Linked DNA regions of Homo sapiens: all the other regions are linked to region 2. Evidence: fine-mapped expression QTL. A gene starts in region 2. Each other region holds a variant in brackets. All regions are shown on one strand. Distances are from middle to middle.

Region 1 (2,759 bases), 38 kb after region 2:
CCGTACCTTATATGCAGTGATCTTGATAAATTATTACTTTTTTTTTTTTTTTTTTTTGAGATAAGGTCTCATTCTGTCACCCAGGCTGGAGTGCAGTGGTGCAATCATAGCTTACTGCAGCCTCAAGTGATCCACCTACTTCAGCCTCCTGAGTAGCTGGGACTGCAGGGACACAACACCATGCCTGGCTAATTTTTGTAATTTTCTGTAAAGACAGGGTTTCGCCATGTTGTTCAGGCTGGTCTCGAACTCCTGGGCTCAAGCGATCCAACTGCCTTGACCTCCCAAAGTGCTGGGATTACAGGCATGAACCGCCATGCCCAGCCTAATTAGTTCTTATTCTTCTTAGTCATATAATTTGTTTATAAATTATTTTAATTGTACATATACACTTTAATTGTTTGAACATAATAACTGTTTTTTTCTTTTCTTTTTTTTTTTTTTTTTTAAGAGTTGAGGTCTCACCCTGTCACCCAGGCTGGAGTGCAATAGCACAATTATAGCTCACTATAGCCTTGATCTCCTGAGCTCAAGAGATTCTCTCACCTCAGCCTCCTGAGTAGCTGGGACTAAAGGTGCCTGCTGCCACACCCTGCTAGAAACTGGTTTTCTTGCCGGGTGTGATGGCTCATGCCTGCAACCCCAGTACGTTGAGAGGCCAAGGTAGGCGGATCACCTGAGGTCAGGAGTTCGAGACCAGCCTGGCCAACATGGTGAAACCCTGTCTCTACTGAAAAAATTAAAAAATTAGCCAGGTGTGGTGGCATGCACCTGTAATCTCAGCTACTCAGGAGGCTTAGGAAGGAGAATTGCATGAACCCAGGAGGTGGAGGTTGCAGTGAGCCGAGATCACACCACTGCACTCCAGCTGGATGACACAGCAAGACTCTATCTCAAAAAAAAAAAAAAAAATTAAAAAAAAAAATGTGGGCCGGGCACGGTGGCTCATGCCTGTAATCCCAGCACTCTGGGAGGCTGAGGCAGGCGGATCACATGAGGTCAGGAGTTTGAGACCAGCCTGGCCAACATGGCAAAACCCCGTCTCTACTAAAAATACAACAAAAAATTAGCCAGGCATGGTGACGGGTGCCTATAATCCCAGCTACTAGGGAGGCTGAGGCAGGATAATTGCTTGAACTTTGGAGGCAGAGGTTGCAGTAAGTCAAGATCGTGCCACTGCACTCCACTCTTGGCG[A/G]CAAGAGTGAAACTCTGTCTCAAAAAAAAAAAAAAAAGTGTATGGAAACACAAAGGGCCAAGAATAGTAATACTGAAGAGAAAAACTGGAGACCTTACACTACCAGATATAAAGCTATCATAAAGCTATAATCATCAAAACAGGGTGGCATTTCCACATGAATAGACAGGCCAGTGGTAAAGCGTAGAGAATCCAGAAATATTCACACATGCACAGTCATATGACTTGTGACGAAAGTGACACTGTAGTGCAGTGGGAAAAGAATGGACTTTTTAAGACACGTTGGATCACTTGAATATTCACAGAGAAAAAAATAAACCTTAACATCTACCTCACATAATACACAAAAATTAATTCCACAGGGATTGTAGATCAAAATATGATAGACACAAAAATAACACTTTTAGAAAAAAAAAGTAGGAGGCTGGGTGTACTGGCTCATGCCTATAAACTGTGCTTTGGAAGGCCAAGGTGGGAGGATTGCTTCAGAGAAGGGGTTCAAGACCATACTGGGCAACATGGTGAAACCCCATCTCTACAAAAAATAAAAAATTAGCCCGGTATGCTGGTGCACCTGCCACCATGCCAGGCTAATTTTTAAAAAACTTTTTAGTAGAGATGGGGTTTCGCCATGTTGGTCAGGCTTGTCTCGAACTTGTTTTTTGTTTGTTTGTTTTTTGAAATGGAGTCTCGCTCTGTCGCCCAGGCTGGAGTGCAATGGCGCAACCTCAGCTCACTGCAACCTCCGCCTCCCAGCTACTCAGCAGGCTGAGCGAGGAGGATCACTTAAGCCCGAGAGTTGAAGGCTGTAATGAGTTGTGATGGTGCCACTGCACTCCAGCCTGGATGACAGAGCAAGACTCTGTCTCAAAAAAAAAAAAAAAAAAAAAAAAAACAAGAAAAGAACTTTCATTCTTCAAAAGACACCAGCAAGAGAGGGAAAAGGCAAATCATAGACTGGAAGAAGCCATTTGCAATACATCAATCTGACAAATAACTCAAATTTAGGACATACAGATACCTCCTGCCAATCAAAAGGGGAAGGGTAGAGAACCTAGTGGAGAAGGACTTGACTCACAAAAGAGGATGGTATCTTTTTCTTTTCTTTTATTTTCTTTTTTTGAGATGGAGTTTCGCTCTTGTTGCCCAGGCTGGAGTGCAGTGGTGCGATCTCGGCTCACTGCAACCTCTGCCCTCCGGTTTCAAGCGATTCTCCTGCCTCAGCCTCCCGAGTGCCAGAGCAGGGAGGGAGAATGACGAGACTAAACTGTAGCTTCAGCTTTCTCTCTTTAAAAACCAAAGCAAAGAGGACAAAATGTTCATTTCTATTAATTCTAAGTGGTGGGTACAAGGTTATTCATTATATTGTTTTCTGTATGTCTGCAATATTTCATAATATATATGTTTTCAATAAAAATTAGCTGGGTGTGGTGGTGTGTGCCTGTAGTCCCAGCTACTCAGGAGGCTGAGGCGGGAGGACTGCCTGAATTCAGGAGGTGCAGGTTGCAGGTTGCAGTGAGCTGAGATGGTACCACTGCACTCCAGCCTGGAGGACAGAGCTAGG
Region 2 (2,759 bases):
CTTGGGAGAGGATGGTGAACGAGCCACGGCAGAGAGGATGAGAGCGTGGATCCCTGGGTGGGTTGGGGTGGTGCTCGGGGTGCCATTGAGGAGGGGGTGGAAAGATTCTAATGCTCTGAGGTAGGGTCCGAGCCTAGATTTGCAGAGGGAGCGAGAAAGGGGGCCGAATGAAACGATTCAGAAACTTTTGGGGCACGCGGAGGAGCTCAAACGTGGGCAGGGCTAAAGCAACAGGGAATTATTCAAATATAACTGGGTGGGGTCGGATTCCAGGCGATTCCAGGTCTGCGAAAATTAGAAGGGTCTGGAGCTGTGTGCCTGAATCCTGGATGGGCGGGGCCTGGAAGAGAAAATAAGCGAAGCCCCAGAGGGGAGGGGTCGAACTAAAAACAGTAAAGAAAAAAAAAATATGTATATATATATATATATATATATATATATATATATATATATATCTTTTTGAGACAGGGTCTCGCTCTGTTGCCCAGGCTGGAGTGCAGTGATACGATCACGGCTCACTGCAGCCTCGACCTCCCGGGCTCAGGTGATCCTCCCACCTAAGCCTCCTGAGTAGCTGGGATCACAGGTGTGTTCCACCGCGCCTGGCTAAATGTTAATTTTTGTAGAGACGGGGTCTCGCTATGTTTCCCAGGCTGGTCTCAAACTCCTGGGCTTAAGCGATCCGCCTGCCTCGGCCTCCCTAAGTGCTGGGGTTATAGGCGTGAGCCACCGCGCCCGGCCAAGTATGGTATTTACAGGTTTTGAGGCTGGGGGCTGTACCACTGAGGTGGGAGGAGCTTGGACTGAGTGTTGTGTTGAGAACACAGATTCTAGAATTAGTTTCCCTGGAACACCGGTTACTTCTGTGACTCTGTTTCTTCTTCCATATGTAAACTGGAGATGATGATGTATAACAGTGTGTGACACATTAGTACTATGTAATAGTTTGCCACTGGTACAGTATTATCTTTTTTCTTTTTTTTTCCTGATTCAGATCCCAAACCCCGCTTTGTAGGTGCAGGAAACAGGAGACCCAGAAGTGTAATTCCTTCTAGTGACCCGCCTAAAGAGCAGGTCAAAGGACAGGAAGGAGATTTAGATGGTTTAAAATCTCACAGCGGAGGGGATTAATGGAGGGGGCGGGCAGGTGTACAGGGTGGAGCCTTCCTGATCCCAGGGCTGAAGGATGGCGGTCCTGGCCCGCCAGCTGCAGCGTCTCCTCTGGACCGCTTGCAAGAAAAAGGAGAGGGAGAAGGAGGGGAGGGAGGAAGAGGAGGAGGAGGAGGCGGGGCGCAGGGCCCCCGAAGGGCCTCGGTCTCTGTTGACAGCGCCGCGCCGCGCCCAGCGGCCGCACGGGGGTGCCGAGGCGTCTGGGGGCCTGCGCTTCGGGGCGAGCGCAGCGCAAGGCTGGCGCGCGCGCATGGAGGATGCTCACTGCACTTGGCTTTCGTTACCTGGTCTGCCCCCGGGCTGGGCCTTGTTTGCCGTCCTCGACGGCCACGGTGGGGCTCGAGCTGCCCGCTTCGGTGCACGCCATTTGCCAGGCCATGTGCTCCAGGAGCTGGGCCCGGAGCCTAGCGAGCCCGAGGGCGTGCGCGAGGCGCTGCGCCGAGCCTTCTTGAGCGCCGACGAGCGCCTGCGCTCCCTCTGGCCCCGCGTGGAAACGGGCGGCTGCACGGCCGTGGTGTTGCTGGTCTCCCCGCGGTTTCTGTACCTGGCGCACTGCGGTGACTCCCGCGCGGTGCTGAGCCGCGCTGGCGCCGTGGCCTTCAGCACAGAGGACCACCGGCCCCTTCGACCCCGGGAACGCGAGCGCATCCACGCCGCTGGCGGCACCATCCGCCGCCGCCGCGTCGAGGGCTCTCTGGCCGTGTCGCGAGCGTTGGGCGACTTTACCTACAAGGAGGCTCCGGGGAGGCCCCCCGAGCTACAGCTCGTTTCTGCGGAGCCAGAGGTGGCCGCACTGGCACGCCAGGCTGAGGACGAGTTCATGCTCCTGGCCTCTGATGGCGTCTGGGACACTGTGTCTGGTGCTGCCCTGGCGGGACTGGTGGCTTCACGCCTCCGCTTGGGCCTGGCCCCAGAGCTTCTCTGCGCGCAGCTGTTGGACACGTGTCTGTGCAAGGTCCTGGGGGCGTGGCGTGGTACCTTTGGGGCTTGGTGCAGCAGAGGGAGAGAGCCTCGGGGTTTTGGGGAGGAGGGCTTTGATAGAGAGGCAAGAGTAAAGCTAGCAAAGGAGGGGATAGGACTCAAGCGAAGGGCGTGGCCTGAAGTGGGCAGGGCCAAAATACAGGGGCGGAGCCTGAGGGATGCTTTGAGGCACGGGAGAGTTAGTGGAAGGGACTTAAGAGAAAGGGCGTGGTCTTTTGGAAAGGGGCGATTCTGGGTCGTAGGAGCCGGGCCGGAAGTATTGATTAGTGCTGGAAGGTGGAAGAGCAGGTAAACATCAGAGCGGGCGGAGCTTTAGGGAAAAGGCATTGTTCTCTCAATTGGGAGCGCCTAGGACCGGGTTTGGTCCCAGTAAGAGAGGATTGGCAGGTGGGTGGGACGCGAAAGAAATGGGCATAAGTAGAATGAAGTGGGGGACTTGAACCTGGGGATTGTTGGGAAGCTCTGCCTTGGACTCTCCCCCACCGGGCTCCTTTTTCTCCACCGGCTTCAGGGCAGCCTGGACAACATGACCTGCATCCTGGTCTGCTTCCCTGGGGCCCCTAGGCCTTCTGAGGAGGCGATCAGGAGGGAGCTAGCACTGGACGCAG
Region 3 (2,759 bases), 42 kb before region 2:
ATCCCTCTTGTGCCAGTCCCCCAGCCCTGCTGTTCCCACAGCTCTGTGCTGAAGAGGGCGTGGAGGGGGCCAGGGAAGGGAGTGTCAGGCAGCCAGCCGGCTGCCTGCCCTGGACAGCAGCCCAGAGTGTCTGCAGGAGGGAGAGGGTAGTTCAGGAGCCTGAGTCACCCTGGGAGAAACCCCAGCCACATACCTGGCCGCTGACATCACCCGGCCAGGGCACCCCCGGCAGCCTAGACAAGCTGACTGAATCACAGGCGGAATTCAGCCACCCCGGGCACGTGGCCTGCTGTGACCCCCCGCAACACCCCCGAGTGGCCGTCTGGCTGCGGGGGTTGGGCCGGGCACACAGGGGTCAGTGAGGGGGCATGGGGCCTGAGTCAGGGACAGGGTGGCTACAGCCAGAGACCACCCAGCCACAGGCGTCCATGTGGGGCAGGAAGGAGAAAGTTTGGGAAGGAGAGCCTGTGGGGAGGCCCTGGCGGGTGAGGAGGAAGCACGTGTGGGTGTGACGGGGAGGCTGCGGCTTGTGGGCAGCGGCTGGGCGACCCACAGGGGTGGGATGGGGTCTGAGTGTTTGCGCAGAGAATCACCAAATCGTAAGAGACTTGGTCGTAAGAGTCAGTCAGGAGGACAATGGAATCACCAATGTGCTTACACACGCAAAGGCACACACGCACACTCAACACCCGGCCTGGGGAGGCCCTGACTCCACCCACCCCAGGCCAGCGGGGCCTCACTACCCATAAGCCTGCAAGTTCCCTAAGGGACTGAGGCCTAAGGGACAGTTTCCTCATCTGTTGAGTGGGGGTATTAACAAGCATTATTAGGCCAGGCACAGTGACTCGTGAGGCAGAGGTAGGCGGATCCCTTGGAGGCCAGAAGTTCAAGACCAGCCTGGACATCATAGCAAGACCCCTTCTCTACAAAGAAAAAATTTAAAAATTAGCTGGATGTGGTGGTGTGCACCTGTAGTCCCAGGTACTCAGGAGGCTGTGGAGGGTGGATTGCTGGAGTGTTGGAGTTTGAGACTGCAGTGAGCTATTGATTGCACCACTGTACTCCAGCCTAGACAACAGAACAAGATCCTATAGCAAAAAAAAAAAAAAAAAAAAATCACTATTATTGTAATAGCTATGCTTACGGGGAACATACTTTCTGCCAGGTGCTGTTCTAGGCATTCTACATTTTTTTTTTTTAAATAATGGAGATGACGTCTCACTATGTTTCCCAGGCTGGTCTTGAACTCCTGAGCTCAGGCTATCCTCTCGCTTTTTTGGTGGCTGGCACGCCTGTAATCCC[G/A]ACATTTTGGGAGGCCAAGGTGGGTGGATCGCCGGAGCCCAAGAGTTCGAGACCAGCCTGGGAAACATAGTGAGATGCCATCTCTACCAAAAAATCAAAAAATTAGCTAAGCATGGTGGCTCATGCCTGTAGTCCCAGCTACTCAGGATGCTGAGGTGGGAGGATCACTTGAACCTGGGAGATGGAAGTTGCAGTAAGCTGAGATTGTGCCACTGCACTCCAGCCTGGGTGACAGAATAAGACCTTGTCTCAAAAAAAAAAAAAAAAAAAAAAAAAGAAGAAGAAAAAAGAGAGTCAACTGCATCTGTATTTGTGGCACTTGGTACATACACGGTAAGCTTTCTCAAGTGACTCTGTTATGATTCTTAGTACTAAACATATTATTTTCCCTTTTTTTGTTTCTTTCTTTCTTTTTTTTTTTTTTTTCGGTGATGGAGTCTCACTCTGTTGCCCAGGCTGGAGTGCAGTGGTGCAATCTCGGCCCACTGCAACCTCCGCCTCCCAGGTTCAAGCGATTCTCCTGTCTCAGCCTCCCAAGTAGTAGGGATTACAGGACCCTACCACCATGCCCAGCTAATTTTTGTATTTTTAGAAGAGACGGGGTTTCACCATGTTGGTCAGGCTGGTCTCGAACTCCAGACCTTAGGTGATCCACCCACCTTGGCCTCCCACAGTGTTGGGATTACAGGCGTGAGCCACCGTGCCTGGCCAAATACACATTATTTTTATCCCTAAGTCCAACTAGGAAGGCCTCCAAAACAGTCACCCTCACTGCCTTGGTCCAGTTCTACTTCTTACCTCCCTGCAGTCCTTCCTGCTGCCTCTTCTTTGGTTATATATGTCTGTAGTAGGGAGAGAGTGCTTCAGGGACTCCCTCCTCATTCATAACTCTTCAGAACTCAATCATGATTATCTAGATCCACCTCCACCAGGAAGTCCTCCTGGCTTACTCCAGCCTCACTAAGCACTCTCACCACCCAATGCCTGGAGTGGTTGTAGTCAGTGAGTGACACATTGCACAGTGTGTGCCCCCTGGATTGGGGGTGGGTGAGAGACAGCCCCCACAGTGAGTGGCACCCCTGGCCAGGGCCTGGGACAAGTCTGTATCCAAGGGTGGCTCTCTGCTTAGGTCTGTGTTTGTACCTGGGTGTGTCTGTGTCTGCCCTACTCTGTGCATACTCATATATGTGAACCCGTGTGTGTGTGTGTAGTTGTGAGTGTGTGTGGAAGAGGCTGCATGGCAGTGGAAGCTAGGTGTGTGATTCGTGTATCTGTGTGCCTAGAGTGCCTTGTTCTATAGATTTGGATGCCACTCCAAGCAAGTCAGTGGGTCTTTTTGTTTTTTGTTTTTTGAGATGGAATCTCACTCTGTTGCCCAGGCTGGAGTGCAGTGGCACGATCTTGGCTCACTGCAACCTCTACCTCCTGGGTTCAAGTGATTCTCCTGCCTCGGCCCC

The links. PIP is the estimated chance that this variant, and not a neighbour inherited with it, causes the effect.
Region 1: its variant is the best candidate, but not a certain one, in a credible set for the expression of PPM1N in monocytes (TOPMed, PIP 0.55).
Region 3: its variant is the best candidate, but not a certain one, in a credible set for the expression of PPM1N in whole blood (TOPMed, PIP 0.75).

What each region holds. Positions count from the first base shown.
Region 1 is chr19:45,535,333-45,538,091 of GRCh38, forward strand. It overlaps a transcript of OPA3 not described here. Among named protein-coding and RNA genes, the nearest start is that of VASP, 29 kb to the left of the region's middle. The variant A/G (reference allele first, on the strand shown) is at 1,196.
Region 2 is chr19:45,497,287-45,500,045 of GRCh38, forward strand. It overlaps PPM1N (protein phosphatase, Mg2+/Mn2+ dependent 1N (putative)), which reads left to right and starts at 1,157. Exons shown (of 5, transcript NM_001080401.2): 1 at 1,157-2,125; 2 at 2,663-2,759. The coding sequence starts at 1,187. RefSeq lists a silencer at 1,385-1,454.
Region 3 is chr19:45,455,734-45,458,492 of GRCh38, forward strand. No RefSeq gene overlaps it. Among named protein-coding and RNA genes, the nearest start is that of FOSB, 11 kb to the right of the region's middle. RefSeq lists enhancers at 1-81, 1-93, 82-1,048. The variant G/A (reference allele first, on the strand shown) is at 1,303.